Homo sapiens: one gene and its partner. The protein of the gene in region 1 purifies or fractionates together with the protein of each later gene. This does not show direct contact. Each region holds a gene or a part of one and is shown on either strand. Other genes may lie near its edges.

Evidence for each region.
Region 2: the proteins of C16orf54 (region 1) and EFNB1 purify together in Homo sapiens (affinity purification with mass spectrometry; 2 studies listed by BioGRID and IntAct, with this or other methods). This does not show direct contact.

Annotation. Positions count from the first base shown.
Region 1 is NC_000016.10:29,742,238-29,751,335, reverse strand, and holds C16orf54 (transmembrane protein C16orf54), read left to right. Parts: upstream 1-5,345; 5' UTR 5,346-5,425; exon of another isoform or gene 5,426-5,609; coding exon of another isoform or gene 5,610-5,639; intron 5,640-5,712; exon of another isoform or gene 5,713-5,852; coding exon of another isoform or gene 5,853-5,909; intron 5,910-5,950; exon of another isoform or gene 5,951-6,089; intron 6,090-6,384; coding exon 6,385-7,059; 3' UTR 7,060-7,397; coding exon of another isoform or gene 7,398-7,446; 3' UTR 7,447-8,873; downstream 8,874-9,098.
Region 2 is NC_000023.11:68,830,541-68,839,020, forward strand, and holds part of EFNB1 (ephrin-B1 precursor), read left to right. Parts: intron 1-8,076; coding exon 8,077-8,354; intron 8,355-8,480. UniProt on the Homo sapiens protein: Cell surface transmembrane ligand for Eph receptors, a family of receptor tyrosine kinases which are crucial for migration, repulsion and adhesion during neuronal, vascular and epithelial development.

The DNA of each region.
Region 1 (9,098 bases):
GTTACCCAGGCTGGTCTCAAACTCTTGCCCTCAAGCAATCCTCCTGCTTCAGTCTCCCAAAATTGTGGGATTACAAACATGAGCCACCTTGCCTGGCCTTAAACTTTTTTTTTTTTTTTTTGAGACAGAGTCTCGCTCTGTTGTCCAGGGTGGAGTGCAGTGGCATGATCACAGCTTACTGCAACCTCTTCCTCCTGGGTTCAAGCAATTCTCCTGCCTCAGCCTCCTGAGTAGCTGGGATTACAGGCATGTGTCACCACGCCCAGCTAATTTTTTTTTTTTTCCCCAGACAGAGTCTTGCCCTGTCACCCAGGCTGGAGTGCAGTGGCATGATCCCGGCCCACTACAACCTCCACCTCCTGGGTTCAAGCGATTCTCCTGCCTCAGCCTCTCAAGTAGCTGGGACTACAGGCACCTGCCACCAAACCCGGCTAATTTTTGTATTTCTAGTAGAGACAGGGTTTCACCATGTTGGCCAAGTTGGTGTCGAACTCCTGACCTCATGATCCGCCTGCTTTGGCCTCCCAAAGTGCTGGAATTACAGGTGTGAGTCACCTCACCCGGCCTTTTTTGGTATGTTTAGTAGAGACGGGGTTTCGCCATGTTGGTCAGGCTGGCCTCAAACTCCCGACCTTAGGTGATCCACCTGTCTTGGCCTCCCAAAGTGCTGGGATTACAGGCATGAACCATTGTGTAGGGCCTAAACTTGTACGTGATGAAAGAATCAAAACAGCCAGTGATATCTTAGTAAGAAAAAACCATGTCTGATCTTTCCAGTTTTTAATAATGTTAACTCTTCTAAAAGTTTGTTTAAAAAGATTGATTAAAAGAGCACATACAAGTTTTCAGGTTTTGTTTATTTTGATTTTTTTTTTTTTTACAATAAATCATTGTTTGATTGTAGGGAAACACACATAACTGCCAGGCACGGTGGTACACACCTGTAATCCCAGCTACTTGGATGGCTGAAGCAGAAGAATATCTTGAACCCGGGAGGCGGAGGTTGCAGTGAGCCAAGATTGCGTCACCGCACTCCAGCCTGGGCAACAGAGACAGACTCCGTCTCAAAAGAAAAAAAGAAATACATAACATAAAATAACATCAAAGTTACTATCATTTTTCTATATTGACCTCTAGAACAGCCAGAAAGAACATCTTAGTTATTTTTAAGCGTGTTGTTCGCTGGCACTAACTTCAGGTTTGATTTTAAGGCTTGTAATCTGGTAAAATTCTAGCCTCCTCAGGTTTCTGCGAGTGTCCTGAGCCTTAGCTTCCCCCTGTAACTGCCAAAGGGGTTCACCTTGCCCGCTGCCTACACATAGCCGATTCATCAAGACAGCAAAATTGCAATAAAGAGTAATTCACACAGAGCCAGCTGTGCAGGAGACCGGAGTTTTTTTTTTTTTTTTTTTTTTTTTTTTGACGGTTTTGCTCTTTTTGCCCAGGCTGGAGTACAATGGTGCCACCTCGGCTCACTGCAACCTCCGCCTCCAGGGTTTAAGTGATTCTCCTGCCTCAGCCTCCTGAGTAGCTGGGATTACAGGCACTTGCCACCACACCTGGCTAATTTTGTATTTTTAGTAGAGACAGTGTTTTCTCCATGTTGGTCACGCTGGTCTCAAACTCCCAACCTAAGGTGATCCACCGGCCTTGGCCTCCCAAATTGCTGAAATTACAGGCGTGAGCCACTGTGTCCAGCCAGGAGTTTTATTATTACTCAAATCAGTCTCCCTGAGCATTCGGGAAACAGAGGGTTTTTTTGTTTGTTTTTGTTTTGTTTTTTTGAGATGGAGTCTTGCTCTGTCGCCCAGGCTTGAGGGCAGTGGCGCAATCTCGGCTCACTGCAAGCTCCGCCTCCCAGGTTCATGCCATTCTCCCGCCTCAGCCTCCCAAGTAGCTGGGAGTAGCTGGGACTAGCTGGGACTACAGGCATCCGCCAACACGCCTAATAAATTTTTTGTATTTTTAGTAGAGATGGGGTTTCACCGTGTTAGCCAGGATGGTCTCGATCTCCTTGTGTCCAGAATTGGCGGGTTCTTGGTCTCACTGACTTCAAGAATGAAGCTGCGGACCCTCACGGTGAGTGTTTCAGTTCTTAAAGGCGGCATGTCCGGAGTTTGTTCCTTCTGATGTTCGGACGTGTTCCGAGTTTCTTCCTTCTGGTGGGTTCGTGGTCTCGCTGGCCTCTGGCGTGAAGCTGCAGACCTTCACGATGTTACAGCTCATAAAGGCAGTGCAGACCCAGGATAAGCAGCAGCAAGATTTATTGGAAAGATCAAAAGAACAAAGCTTCCTATGTGGAAGGGTACGCCGAGTTGCCACTGCTGGCTCTGGCAGCCTGCTTTTATTGCCTTATCTGGCCCCACCCACATCCTGCTGATTGGCCCATTTTACAGAGAGCCAACTGGTCTGTTTTATAGAGAGCTGATTGGTCCATTTTGACAGGGTGCTGATTGGTGTGTTTACAAACCTTGAGCTAGACACAGAGTGCTGATTGGTGTATTTACAATCCCTTAGCTAGACATAAAGGTTCTCCAAGTGCCCACTAGACTCAAGAGCCCAGCTGGCTTCACCTAGTGGACCTAGCACCTGGGCTGCAGGTGGAGCTGCCCACCAATCCTGTGCCTGCACTCCTCAGCCCTTGGGCGGTTGATGGGACCAGGCCCCGCAGAGCAGGGGGCGGTGCAGGAGCCCAGGCAGGGGGACGCTTGGGCATGGCGGGCTGCAGGTCCCAAGCCCTGCCCCGTGGGGAGGCAGCTGAGGCCTGCGAGAATTCAAGTGCACCTGTGGGCTGGCACTGCTGGGGGACCTGGCGCACCCTCTGCAGCTGCTGGTCTGGGTGCTAAGCCCCTCACTGCCTGGGGCCAATGGCGCCAGCCGGCCTCTCTGAGTGCGGGGCCCACCGAGCCCACGCCCACCCGGAACTCATGCTGGCCCTCGAGCGTGGCCCGCAGCCCCAGTTCCCGTCCGCGCCTCTCCCTCCACACCTCTGGCAAGCAGAGGGAGCGGGCTCCCGCCTCGGCCAGCCCAGAGAGGGGCTCCCACAGTGCAGCGGCGGGCTGAAGGGCTCCTCAAGCGCAGGGAGAGTTGGCGTGGAGGCCGAGGAGGCGCCCAGAGTGAGTGAGGGCTGCCAGCACGCTGTCACCTCTCATCCTGACCTTGTGATCTGCCTGTCTGGTCCTCCCAAAGTGCTGGGATCTGGGAGTGCAGATTGGTCAGAGATGAAATCATCAGGAGTCAGAGCTGTCTTCTTGCAGAGTCAGTTCTGGGTGGGGGCCACAAGATCAGATGAGCCAGTTTATTGATCTGGGTGGTGCCAGCTGATCCATCAAGTGCAGGGTCTGCAAAATATCTCAAGCACTGATGTTAGGAGCAGTTTAGGGAGGGTCAGAATCTTGTAGCCTCCAGCTGCATGACTCCTAAACCATAATTTCTAATCCTATGGCTAGTGTTAGTCTAGTCCCCAGGCAAGAAGGTCTGCTTTGGGAAAGGGCTGTTACTGTCTTTGTTTAAACTATAAACTACAAACTAAGTTTCTCCCAAAGTTAGTTCAGCCTACGCCCAGGAATAAACAAAGACAGCTTGGAGGTTAGAAGCAAGGTGGAGTCAGTTAAGTTAGATCTCTTTCTTTGCAAAGGCGGTTTCCCCCGGACTCTCCATCTCCAGCTCCTCCCAGCAGGGCTCAAAACCACCAGGATGGGGCAGTCTGACGGAGACTGTCTTTTCATTCATTTATTTATTTAATTTATTTATTTTGAGACAGAGTCTCGCTCTGTTGCCCAGGCTGGAGTGGAATGGCACGATCTCGGCTCACTGCACCGGGTTCAAGCGATTCTCCTGCCTCAGCCTCCTGAGTAGTTGGGGTCATAGGCGTGCGGCACCACGCCCGGCTAATTTTTGTATTTTTAGTAGAGACGGGGTTTTGCCATGTTGGCCAGGCTGCTCCCAAACTCCTGACCTCAGGTGATCCACCCGCCTCGGTCTCCCAAAGTGCTGGGATTACAGGCATGAGCCACCTCGCCCAGCCCAGGGATTTCTATCTATTCTTCCACCACCCTGGCCACTACATGCTCACCCACACATACATTGGTCATGCGACTTTGGTCATGAAATCTCTTTTCTTTAAGCCTTACTTTTGTCATCTGTGGATGAGTCAAACTAGAGAATCTCAGAAAGTCACCTGGACTCCAGAGCCTGATGACATCTTGTCACACTCTGCTCCAGGCTCCTCCCACCCTCAGCAGCAGGAAAGAGGGACAGACATGAGGATGGTCAGGGTTTTGGAAACAGGCCCACGCCTGTTTTTATACCCTGGACTCCTCTCAGAGGCTTGACATTTTTGTTACCCAAGCCTCACCTCACTGATATTTTCCAACCAAAATGGGGGCTAAATGGTCTGAAGAGAGAGAGACTTATGTTAATTAAAAGTATGAGGCAGGGGCCAGTGTGGTAGCTCACACCTGTAATCCCAGCACTTTGGGAGGCTGAGGCAGGAGGATCTCTTGAGGCCAGGAGCTTGAGACCAGCCTGGGCAACATAGCAAGAGCCCATCTCTACCAGAAAAAAAAAAAAAAGGTGTGAAGCAAGCTGGCCAAGCAGGGGGTGCCTGTGGGGGCTGCATGGCAGGAGCAGATCTGGGGAGGCACCGTGGATAAGACAAGGCAGGATGGGGTGGGGCATCCTCCCAGGAGGAACGGGGGAGGCACCATGGTTCTCTGGGAATGTACGGGCTAAAGTCCCAGTGTCCTATTTCTTTTTCTTTTCTTTTCTTTTCTTTTTTTTTAAGACGGAGTCTCACTCTGTTGCCCAGGCTGGAGTGTGGTGGCACGATCTCAGCTCACTGCAACCTCCGAGTCCCGGGTTCAAGCGATTCTCCCTGCCTCAGCCGCCTGAGCAGCTGAGATTACAAGTGCCCGTCACCATGCCCAGCTAATTTTTGTATTTTTCAGTAGAGATGGGGTTTCGCCATGTTGGCAGGCTGGTCTCGAACTCCTGACCTCAGGTGACTTGCCCACCTTGACCTCCCAAAATGCTGGGATTACAGGGGTGAGCCACTGTGCCTGGCCCCGGCGTCCTCTTTCTCAGCTTTTCGGTGAATGTTCTGGGGCTCAGGGCCTGGCTATGGGGTGACACTAAGTTCAACAGAACCATTGCCCATTCCAGCCCCACCTTACCCCAGGAAAAGCCTCCTCACCGCAGTGACCACATCCCCTTGGGTTGCTTTGGAAACAAACACTCCCCAGGGGCAGACGAGTTGGGGCACAGTTGCCCAGCAACAGGCGGTGCCCTCCCTTCCGCCTTCATCCGAGGCCGGGCCTCTACGTCTGAGAGGCGGACCGCCCTGCACCCTCCAAGCCTGCACCTCTTAGTCCAGCACCAGGAAGAGTGGCTCTAGGAGGGAGAGGAGCCCAGGGACTGACCCAAGGTGAGTTGAGGGGTGCAGGAGGCCCCCTGCAGATGGAGGATGTGGGGGACAGAGAGGTGTGCAGAGACAAACGAGAGATAGAGACAGGCCAGAGCCTGGGCAAAGCTGGGGAGCCCAGGAGGGGTGCAGAGGCGCCTCCGGAGGCCTGGCCCGGCCCGGCCCGGCAGCAGATTCCGTGGAGCCTATGAGAGCAAGATCAAGTCCGAGGAGAATGGTGAGGGGCGAAGGAGCCTCAAGGGGCCAGCGGAGGTGCTGGCGGCAGGCGGTGGGGGAGACACACGCAGGGGAGCCAGTGGGAGGGGAGGTTCTCATTTCTTCACCCACCACTTCCTCTCTAGGTCTGAGCAAGACTTGAGGGGGCCGAGTGGGGAGGAAAGAAGCCCTTGAGACCTTTCTTGTCTGAGGCACCCTGGGGTCTGGGAGGGAAATGGGGATTCTGGAAAGGCCTGGAGAGCCAGGCAGGAGGGCCTGGCTGTGCCCCGAGGTAGGCTGCCTGTCCTCCCACCCCACCTGGCTCACGCTTACCCTTTCTGGTCCCTCTTGCTTCTCTGTCTCTCCAGAATGTTCTTTTTCATTTTTGAGAAAGGGTCTTGCTCTATTGCCCAGGCTGGAGGACAGTGGTGCAATCTGGGGTCACTGCAGCTTCAAACTCCTGGGCTCAAGTAATCCTCCCACCTCAGCTTCCTGTGTAGCTGGGACTACAGGTGTGAGCCACCACACCCAGCTAGTTTTTAAATTATTTTTAGAGATGAGGTTTCACTGTGTGTCCAGGCTGGTCTTGAACTCCTGGGCTCAAGTGATCCTCCCGCCTCGACCTCTCAAAGTGCTGGGATTCCAGGCATGAGCCCCCATGCCCAGCCCTTCTCCCAGGCTTTCCTGGACACCTGCTGCCTCTCTCTCATCTTGGTTGTGCCCCCTCTGCCTCATTTACTTCCTCTTCTCACCCCTGTGTCTCTCAGATGCCGTTGACTCCAGAGCCGCCCTCTGGGCGCGTGGAGGGGCCCCCCGCATGGGAAGCAGCCCCATGGCCCTCACTGCCCTGTGGGCCCTGCATCCCCATCATGCTGGTCCTGGCCACCCTGGCTGCGCTCTTCATCCTCACCACCGCTGTGTTGGCTGAACGCCTGTTCCGCCGTGCTCTCCGCCCAGACCCCAGCCACCGTGCACCCACCCTGGTGTGGCGCCCAGGAGGAGAGCTGTGGATTGAGCCCATGGGCACCGCCCGAGAGCGCTCTGAGGACTGGTATGGCTCTGCGGTCCCCCTGCTGACAGATCGGGCCCCTGAGCCTCCCACCCAGGTGGGCACTTTGGAGGCCCGAGCAACAGCCCCACCTGCCCCCTCAGCCCCAAATTCTGCTCCCAGCAACTTGGGCCCCCAGACCGTACTGGAGGTCCCAGCCCGGAGCACCTTCTGGGGGCCCCAGCCCTGGGAGGGGAGGCCCCCCGCCACAGGCCTGGTGAGCTGGGCTGAACCCGAGCAGAGGCCAGAGGCCAGCGTCCAGTTTGGGAGCCCCCAGGCCAGGAGGCAGCGGCCAGGGAGCCCGGATCCTGAGTGGGGCCTCCAGCCACGGGTCACCTTGGAGCAGATCTCAGCTTTCTGGAAGCGTGAAGGCCGGACCAGTGTGGGGTTCTGAATCCCCAGGGTTCCCCAGAGATCCCCGAGGCAGGCCTTGCCTCAGTGGGACCGGGGACCCCAGGATCCAGCATTAGGATTGAGACTGCCCCAGCGAAGATGCCCTTCCCAGGCTCCTTCCACCTGGAGTCCCCCTCCCCGGGTCTGGGTGGTGGCCAGGCTATGTGGACTAGGGGAAGCCCAGCAGTGCCTCTGCTCAGCTACCTGGGCTGTGGCTCAGAGACCTGGGGGTGGAGCCAATGCCAGGCCAGAAGCCTTCAAGATCGCATCCAGATGAAGAACCCAAGGTACTAGATAGTCAGGAAATGGCATCGACCAGCCACCTCCACCTTCTTTCAGTGTTTACCGAAGCCACCAATACCAAAGAGAACGGGTCCTGCGGTGCTGAACAGCCTCGGTGTGGCGATGACAGCTGGCAGGAGATGACAGGAATCCAGTTTCCCAGAGCCACAAATCCTGTTCTCCTTGGCCACTCACCCACTGTGAGGTCCTCTAGGAAAATACACAAAGAGAGGACCAGACCAGGCAGAGGAACATTTTGTTTCATATGAACTGTGGCTTTGACCCCCAAACTGCAAGGAGGAACTTGCTGGGCCAAGCTGCAGCGGCGCTGTCTTGCTGGAGTGGGGACCTAGAGTCAGAGAAAACCCACAGGCTCCTCTGCCCATTCTCCTCCATCTGCACACGTCTCAGCCTCGGACCCTCACCACTCCATGGTGAGGAAGGCCATGGCCAGGGGAAACTGAGTTTCATCCAATGTGGAGAGGAGCGTTGTCCTAGAGCAGGGCAACTCCCAAACTGTGACCTCTGATCATCGTCCCTTCCAGCTTGCTGGAGTGTCCAGAGAGACAGATTTGCCACAAGCTAGGCTTACTTATAATGCTCCACCCTACAGAAATGGGACCCCAAGTACCCAATCTTCCCTTTAGGAGAGGCAGGCAGGTGGGTGAGCAGCAGATGTAGTTTCCATTTCCCTGGGGGTTTAATTTTCCAAACTTTGTCTTTTTTTTTTTTTTTTTTTTTTTTTTGAGACAGAATCTCAACTCTGTCACCCAGACTGGAGTGCAGTGGCACAATCTCAACTCACTACAGCCTCGAACTCCTAGGCTCAAGCGATCCTCCCACCTCAACCTCTAGAATAGCTGGGACTGCAGGTGCATACCACCACGCCCAGCTAATTTTTGTATTTTTTTTGTAGAGACACGGTCTCACCATACTGCCTGGGCAGGTTTCCAACTCCTGGGCTCAAGTGATCCAGCAGCCTTAGCCTCCCAAAATGCTGGGATTACAGGTATGAGCACTGCACCCGGCCACTTTTTTTTGTTTTTGAAACAGGGTCTCACTCTGTTGCCCAGGCTGGACTACAGTGGCACAATCTCAGCTCACTGCGGCCTTGAACTCCTGGGCTTAAGTGATCCTCCCACCTCAGTCTCCCTAGTAGGTGGAACTACAGGCATGTACCACCACACCTGGCTATTTTTTTTTTTTAGAGACAGGGTCTTGCTATGTTGCCCAGGCTGGTCTTTAATTCCTGGGCTCGAGAGAGCCACTCATCCCCATCTCTCAGAGTGTTGGGATTACAGCCATGAGCCACCATGCCCGGCCAAACTTCAGCCTTGAATATTAGTGATTTTGCCATATTAGTTTACCATCTGTACAATTATTTGCTTTATATTTTTCTTTAAATTGGCTCATTATTCACTTAATGAAATTATTGCAACAGGAATCTTTTGTATCACTTCTGTAAATGGAAAACCAGTCTCATTTGCCATCAATAGAAGGTAAAACATGAAAATAAATACAATGTAAACAAAATTGTTAAGATCTAAATTCTGTTCCCTGCTGGAAGCATTGACCTAAAACTCTGCTCTTTGTTTTTGTTGTTGTTTTTGAGACGGAGTCTCGCTCTGTTGCCCAGGCTGCAGTGTGATGGCGCGATCTCCGCTCACTGCAACCTCCGCCTCTGGGTTTAAGCGATTCTCCTGCCTCAGCTTCCCAAGTAGCTGGGATTACAGGCGCCTGCCACCATGCCTGGCTAAT
Region 2 (8,480 bases), on another chromosome or scaffold:
TCACAAAGGCAGCGGGTGGAGAGGGGCGGAGTGGGAGAGTGGTCGTTGGGTAGTGGGGGTTCGAACCAGTGCCCGTCAGGGGTCCAATGGAGCCGGTAACAGAGCTTCAAGGGCCCGCCAGGGCGGAGAGTGGCGGCCGAGCTGTTGAGGGAGGTGGGTGGAGAAGGAGCGATTCCTGCCCAGGCAGGTCCCCTTGGCCCCCGAGTCTGTCCCCCAGATTGGGAAGCTGTGCTTAGTTTTCCCCAAGGGGTTGGGGCGGGGAGTGGGCAGCTATATAAAGGACATCCTTTCTTTTCTTTCTTCTCCTTCCTCTGCACAACTACCCCACCACCACCACACACACAACCCCTCCAAACAACACGCACACCTTTCAGGGCGGTGGCTCAGTGGTTTCTGGGCTTTTAGTGGGAAGTCGCTGGGGCTGTTGTAGTGACCTCTGGACCTTCTCTTTTGGCATCCAGGACTCAGGTTGGAACCAAGGGTCAAAATTGCCCTTCCTCTCAATTTTCTGGAGGTCCCAGCAATGTGCGAACAACCCCACTTAGCAGGAAACTGGGGAGCTTTGACCTGCTCCATCCGTGATCACTGATTCCTGTATCTCAAATTTCTTCCTGTCCACTCTTGCTGCCCCACGCCGCCTCCCCCCCAGCCCCGCCCTGCCCCGGGTAACTTCCCAGGCTCCTGCCTACCTTGGCCTCTTGGGTCCCAGGGACGTTTGATCTCTCAGCCCTGGAGTAGGAGAAGGCAGCTTTAGTTTTCTTCTCCTCGATTAAGGTAGAGTCCTATTACTGGTTGGTGGGATGGCTAAACCAGGGTTGGGGTGGAGGGCTCTCCCTGGGTACAAGGAAAGGGATTGGCAAGAATTTCTTTCCTACCCAGAAGCCAAACGGGGTACAACACTCTCCTAACAGCAGGGGCTCAAAATGCTCTGGGAGCTCTGGGCTGCTTGAGCCCAGGGGGGAACGTTGTGAAGTGCTCAGTGGTTGTGAAGTGCTCAGTGGTTGTGAAGTGCTCAGTTACCCTGGTAAGGGTGGAGGCTGGAAATGTTCTGTCTTGAGCCAGGAGAGTTGAAATCCGCCTGGGGTAGCCCATCATAGGGGCTCATGGGAGTGACCTAATTGCTCTCTCGGGTCTCTAACCAGAGATAGCATGCAGCTCCACAGCTGGAAAGGAGCCCTCCTGCAGAGTTGGGGGTGCTGGAAGAAACACGATCTGTCTGTGCTTCCCCCTTTTTGTGCTCAGAGACTTTAGTGCTCTGGACTGGCTTACAGGTTTTGGGGGGTGGTATCCTCTCTGACCCCCCTCCTCATCTACCTCAAGCTGAGGGCAGGCATTGTGGGGTGAGGATGGGGGGTGGCTGAAGACTCTCTAGAAACTGTCCGAATTCCATTCTGTAATTGGGTAGATCCTGGGAAGGATCAGAGACTGATCCTGGTGCACCCTCCTTCCATCCAGGCTCAGGGGTCTGGAATGCAGCCACTGTCTACATGTGTTGGCTCGGGGTGGTGGGGGCAAATGGACAGGAAGGAGGCACTGCCCTCAGCTCTCCTTGAGCTTTGGGGGCTGCTTCTGCCACCGCGCCCAACCCTCAGGCTGCCACAGCCTTTCAAATAAACAGTCCCTCTCTGTCTCCCTCCCTCTCTGCCTCCTGCCCGAGTTCTCCTCTCAGGCCCGTGTCAGTTCGCCCTCTCATACCCTCCGCGAGCAGCGCTCACTTCCCCTCTCCAGCTAGGCTCGCCTGCTCTGCCTTGCTCTCACACTCCCTCTCACTCTTAGTCACTCTCTGCCTCTTTTTCTCAAGTCCTTTTGTTTCTCGCACATGCCCGTGCTCTCCCTCTCAGGCTCATTTTCTCTCTTCCTTCCCCTCTTCCTCTCCTGGCTTTTGGTCTCTCTCCTCAGCCCTGTCAGAAGCTGGCAACCCCCCTCCCAAAAAAGAAAATCTCCCAGTGCCTATAAACCCTGCTTAATTGCTTCCTTCTTGGGAAAAAAAAAATCAAAATAAAAGAAGTGGTGGGGCTGGGGGTCCGCTTCCAGGTTCCAAGGTGCGTGCGGCCCGGCCCCAGCCCTGACTGAGAGGGGAAGCGGGAATGGCTGGCCCAAGACTCCCAAGCCTCTTTCCCAAATTGGTGCTGGGGCCTTCTGGGATGCTAGTCCCTGAGTGGCAGGAGCTTCTGCCTCCTTGGCCCCTCCTGTCAGATTTGCCCCATGAGCGCAAGGTGGGGGGATGGGTTTGGTCCTGCTAGAGTTTTTTTTAGGAACCTCTGTGTGTGCGTGTGTGTGTGTGTGTGTGTGTGTGTGTGTCTGAGTTGGGGGGCTGTTATCTAAATGGTCCTAGGCGACCCCTCCCGCAGCCTCTTCCCCTGGGAACTTGGGGCAGCCGGCAGGCCTCACACTTGAGTCCTCAGCCAAGTCCAGCTGCTGCAGTTCAGTCTCTCAGTCCCGTCCTGACCCCTTCCTGCCCCCCACTCAGGTTCCCCCACCTCCAGGGAGTCAGAATGTGCCTGAGATCACATTACAAACATTCCCTACAAGGGGGTGGGGGTGGGGGGGTTCAGCTTGGCATCCAGGACCCTTGACTCCAGCATGGGTGGGGGCAGCTGCAGACCCCAACCCATGCTTGCCTGCTCCAAGCCAAAGTGTTGGCCCCAGCCCCACACAGCTGTTCTAGCTCACAGTCCTGGGGAGGCCAGCTCAGGGGGCCCTTTTCCGGGGTGGTTAGGGACCTGACCTCTTCTACTTTGTGGCTGATTGGCCACAGGTGGGAGCCTGAGAGTGATGGGAATCCAGCAGCTCCTAAAGTCCCCTGTTCCCCTGCCTCCCCTCTCCCACATAGGGCAGCCAGGCAAGGGCAAGAAGGACCTGTGAGGCTGGGGTGGGGACTGAATCAAGGGTTCCCTTTCTTCCCTTGGGCTCTCTGTTGTCTCATCCGCTCAGGTGAATGGGGATGCGTGGGCCCTGGATACTATGGTGCATCACTGTTTTCTGGGGTTAGGGACTAAAGGAGATAGAGTGGGCCAGCCAGGAGGCTGCTAGTTGCCATGGGAACACCAGGTTTGGGGGAGAGTCCACTCTGTGACTATTAGAGGAGCTGAGATACGGGGGTGCTCACCAGCCACATTCTGGGTTCCTTACCCCGCAGACCATAGCAGCCCCTCTTGGGCGTGTTTCACGATCATTGTTTTGGGTCAGGGTGCTAGCAGCCAGGAATGTAAGCTCCTTCAGCTTTTTACTTCTAAATAATGCTGTGTTTGGCATGCTAACTAATAGGCAGGCGGCACCTTGCTACTTACAATGCATTCTCATATATGATCTCATCGAATGCTCCCAACAACCCTGGGAAGTAGGTATTGGTCCCATTTTCCAGATAAGAAGGCATATGCCCGGACAAGGGAAGTGACTTGTCTAAGGCCAGTCAATGACTTGCCTATGGGGGCAGAGCTGTGTTGTGTGCCATTCATTCCTGCTGCCTTGAAATGTAGGAGAGACAGGAATTCAAGGTGGGGTTTGGGAAGAGGCCCTGGCTCCCTGCCCCTGAGTTCCCCTCTTACCTCGCAGGTGTGCAAGCATCTGTCCCTGTGACTCAGGCCCTGTCTGTGTGGGGTGAGCAGTGCTCCAACTTCCTCATTTGACTTTTCTAGGCCTACCTTCCAGGGCTGACTGCTTGGGTGACCTGAACTAAAGGCAGCCAACTCACTGCCTGGCACACTCCCTGCGGAGCTCTGAGTGGCACCTTTGGTTCCTCTCTGAGCTAAGAATCTCTCTTCTCAGGGACCCCACAGAAAGCAGACATCGACATCGAGGAGGGGGGGTATTAAATTCATAATGGACACGAGCCTTAGCCAGGTGGGGCAGAGGGAAGGGCATAGTTCAGTGTAGATGGGGAGGGTGACTTCCTCCAGGACTCTCCTGGCTTCCCTGCCTCTGACAGAGCTGTGTGTGCCAGGACCCAGCTGCTGTTCCTGCCCACCCACGCCTGGGCGGGCACTGCTGGGACATGCCAGGCCTGCTCCTGCCAGCCTCGGGGGCTGGGTGGAGCTGGGGGAGTTAAAGAGGAGCCTTTAATTTGGGGGCTCCCCACCCTAGCTGGGATGAGAACAGACTTGAGCTCTGGCTTGGGGTCTGTCCTCCATTGGTCTTGCCACCCTGGGAGGTGCAGGTGCAGTGGTCGTGGGGTCACTGAATCGAGGTTGAGGCTAGAGGCTTCTACCAGACTTGGGCTTGCATGGCCTAGAACCAGGCTCCCCCTTTGGTCATTCTCTGACCACAAGTTGCTAGAGCCTGAGAGCAGGGTGACAGGGAAAGAAGTATAGACCTGGTGGGATGTGGGCAGCTTTCTGGGCAAGACCCTCCTAGCTGCAAGCTCTCCCTGCCCCCTGTAAATTGTATTCACATGGGTGGAGAAGGGCTTATCCGGAGAAAACAAGGAGGGGGCTGTTGGTTAGTTGGTTTCTGGCCAGTCCAGGGCCTTGGAGGCTACTGTCCCCAACCCCTTCAGGCTTTTCATATCCCAGGATTCTTTGTGGCAGTGATGGCATCGTGGTGCTTCTAAGCTAGGTAGAAAGGCTGAAGGTAGAACTTGGGTTAGGGTAGAGGGGGAAGAGCTGGAATAGCTTAGGCCGCCTCCCCCAAGTCCTTTTACTCCCTGGGGTGGCGCCCTGGGGTCCCAGGGCTATCTGAGGCTGGAGAGGGAAGGCCTCAGGGGTTACCATGGTGACCTGCTTCAGGCTTCCTGCTGAGCCATGTCAATCCCTTTATTTTTCAGAAAAGGGCTTTGTCTGGGGGTGGCCCCAGACAGAAAAGCTTGGCTTGGTCCTAGGGTGGGGGGAAGTAAGGTGGAGGATAAAGAGTTTCACTTCGGGATATCTCTTCCTCCTCTTCCCTTACTCCTACTCCTAATCTGGTAAGAGGGGAGAACTGTAGGGTCCCCCTTTAAAGTATGACTAGTGTTCTACCTAGCTTTGGCCTTCACTCTCACTGGCTATACACCCATCCCTTATGGCCCGTTACCACTCTCTTGAGCTTCTGACAGGTCAAGACGAGGTTTGCCCAGTGGTCGGGAAGATGCTAAGGTTACCAGTATGGGGGATCAGGGTCAGGGAAGGCGGGTCTCATCAGGCTCCGCTCCCTTCTGCACTTCAGGGGAAGGTGAGTTTCCCTCTGCCAGCTGCCATGCAAATGAACTAATGAATATTTATGAAGTCTGTTCACTGAGGTTGAAGAGACTCTGAGGGGTTTTGGGGGCAATAGTTCTCTCTTCTCCCCCCTCCTCCATCATGTAGACATCTGTTTCCTCAATGCCTCTGGCTTCAAGGTAGAACCCCAATTAGCTAGAAGCCCTGTTCCAATTCCAGGGCTCTGGAACCTGGGTGGCAATGGGAGACTGCACTTGGGGTAGACAGGACTCCCTGGTGAGTAAGCCAGAACCGAGTGGTTAGAAAGCTGAGCTGGCCTGTCTCCCTTTCCGTGCCCTCTATGTAGCTGCATATATATGTGTTGTTAAGATGCAACAGTACAAGGATTCAGGTAATGTTTTAGGGCCTCTTAGACCCATCGGGTTATTGTCCTGGGTAGGTTTAGACCCCTCTTTTCAATGGGAACATTCATCTGATCATTCATTCCCTCACATGAAGGGCCTGGACTCTAAGGTTCCTGCTGGCTCTAAGATGTGAGCAGTTGTCTAATCCTGCCATCTGGATGGAACCGTTGTGAGCACTGGAAAGGGAAAAAATGCCTGGAGAATTCTAGAGGCTTTGGGGAAACTTGTTGGCTTTGTATGGTGCATGGGACAGGGGTATTCCATCTGAAATGTTTATCCAGGCTTCCATCCCATGCCTACTTCCTTTCTGGGCCCTCTATAGTTAGGTACCAGTGGGGAGGCCATCTCATTCTGGCTTTTACCCTCCTGCACATCAAGATGGCAGCTCCCAATTTGGTGGAGCCTCACTCGACATGGAGGAAAGGCTGCTTTTCTTCGTCCACTTCATCCATGTGGTCAGTTTCCCTCTTCGCCTACTTGGGTATCATTTCCCTCCCTCAGATGAGGACACAGGTTTGGCATTGCAAAGGCATTTGCCCAGAGTTCCCAGTAGGCCGGTATTGCTTGTAGTACCTTTGGTGTAATGGGCCCTCAGGAAATGGAACCACTCTTTTCTCAGATGATTGTGGTAGCCTGTGAACTGGTGCATGACACTGTCAGCTTCATTCTCTTTAAGCACTGCCTGAAGCCTTCCATTGTCCTTCCTGCTCTGAGAGCCTGTCTCCAATGGGATGAAACCCACCCTGCTTGCTGTGACCCTTGAAGCCTTTCAGTCTGGCCCCAGGTGAACTTTTCACCTCTTCTTCTGTTTCTCTCTTCTCACTCCCAGCCAAGCTGGACCAATCACTGGCCTGGGCTTTGTGTTGTAGCCACTGCTGTCTACTGTCTCAGTGTGTTGACTTCTTATTCCTCACCTAAGACCCACTTTCATCCTGCCTTTCCTGTGGATACATCTCTGACCATCCTGGTCAGATGAGCTATCTCTTTCTTCTCCCTGCCTCCAGCCCTTGCTGCTTGAATCATCATCCTCACACATACCTACAGATAGCCTGGTGTTGTCTATCACTCGAGTATGGGTTATTTACTTTTCTGACCCAAACTGGACAGTAAAGTCCTTGACGATGGAGCCATATCTTCTCTTCCTGTTTCCCCTCCAAAATATGAGAGTGAGCTCATAGGTACTTAGTGTTAGTATCTGACCTCCTGCCTCTTGGGAGACTGCTTCTAAGAGGCAGTCAAACATGTTGAACGCCTATTGTGTGCTAGGTGTTCTCCATGTGCTGCCTTGTCTCCCCACCACAATATTGGAAGGTAGGGGCTCTTGCCACCCCCACTTTACAAGAGAAGAAACTGAAGCTCAGAACAGGCAGCTCATCCAAGGTCACAGAGTTAGTAAGGGCCTAGCTTTGGAATCTGATTCTAAAGTCTGTGTTCTTTCTCCTACATGGTTCTGCCTTGCTCTCAGCACCAGCCCATCCAGTCTCAGAAATGGCCAATGGAGCACCATTTTCTTTCTGTGTGCTTAGGCAAGGACAGAGTCCTATGGATAGGTGGTCCTGGGCTGCTGACCCTCCCTGCTGTCCCCCAGTGCCTGGCCTTCTGGATTAGAATATGAACCTGGCTCAAAAGGCATTTGTCCATCTCCTCTCAGGAGCTGGAGTAGGAGCAACATAGAGGTGACAGGTTAGGATACAGATGAGGCCCTATCTTCTATGATCTGTTGTCTCTGGTTGAGCCCCTTCTCTTCTCCTCTGTTCTTTTTAAGAATGAGATGAATCAAGTTTAGGAATTCAGGCTCTTGCATTTTGAGGGTGGGATGAATTGCCAGTAGGACAATAGGCAGTGGGAGTGAGCAGAGCTGCACCTGGCCAGAGACTGTGGCCATCATCCCTTTGCTCCAGGCGATGCCTGTTCCTATCTTTCCATCATGACCAAGATTAGTAAGGATGGGGGAGAAGACATGGGTCCCAGACAGATTGAGCTCCCCCAGCCTTTGGCTGGGAGCTGCGGGGAGTGGTGACTAAGACATGTGTGGGCTTGCTGTGTGTGTGTGTATGTGTGTGTGTGTGTGTGTGTGTGTGTGTGTGTGTGTGTGTGCGCGCGCGCGCGCGCACGTGTGTATGGGTATAGGAGAGGTAGTAGCAGCGGTCATGAAGGAATCTTTGTTGGGGGTGGGGGTATATAAGACTGCCACCTCCAGGTAGCATGGGCCTGACACCTTGGTACCCAGCCCATTGGCCACGTCAGCCCCCTGCGGAAATGCCACATTAGGACAAAGGGCTCCCCCAGCCAGGCAGTGCTCCACCCTGCCGAGCAGTCAGAGCCTGGCAGCCTTGCCCATGGGCCACCCCTTCCACACTCTCCTGGTAGTGTGGTTCTCTCTCCCCACCCCCAGCCTGAGGATGGAGGAAGGGCAGAAGGCTTGCTCTTGCCATCTCCACCCAGTAGGCCCAGCCCGGCTCTTGTCCGCTTCCCTGGTTCTGGAATGGCCTGGGGCCACCCCCAACCCTGAGGCTGACCATCTTCTTCCTTCTGGGCAGGTTCCTGAGTGGGAAGGGCTTGGTGATCTATCCGAAAATTGGAGACAAGCTGGACATCATCTGCCCCCGAGCAGAAGCAGGGCGGCCCTATGAGTACTACAAGCTGTACCTGGTGCGGCCTGAGCAGGCAGCTGCCTGTAGCACAGTTCTCGACCCCAACGTGTTGGTCACCTGCAATAGGCCAGAGCAGGAAATACGCTTTACCATCAAGTTCCAGGAGTTCAGCCCCAACTACATGGGCCTGGAGTTCAAGAAGCACCATGATTACTACATTACCTGTGAGTCCCGCCCATCCCATCCTCTGGCTCTCTCCCTGGGCTTAACTCTTTCCTCTCCTGTAGTAGTGGGAGCTTCTAAGTGGTGCAATGCTATTGCATGTAGTTAAGACCCTGCTGGATCTGATC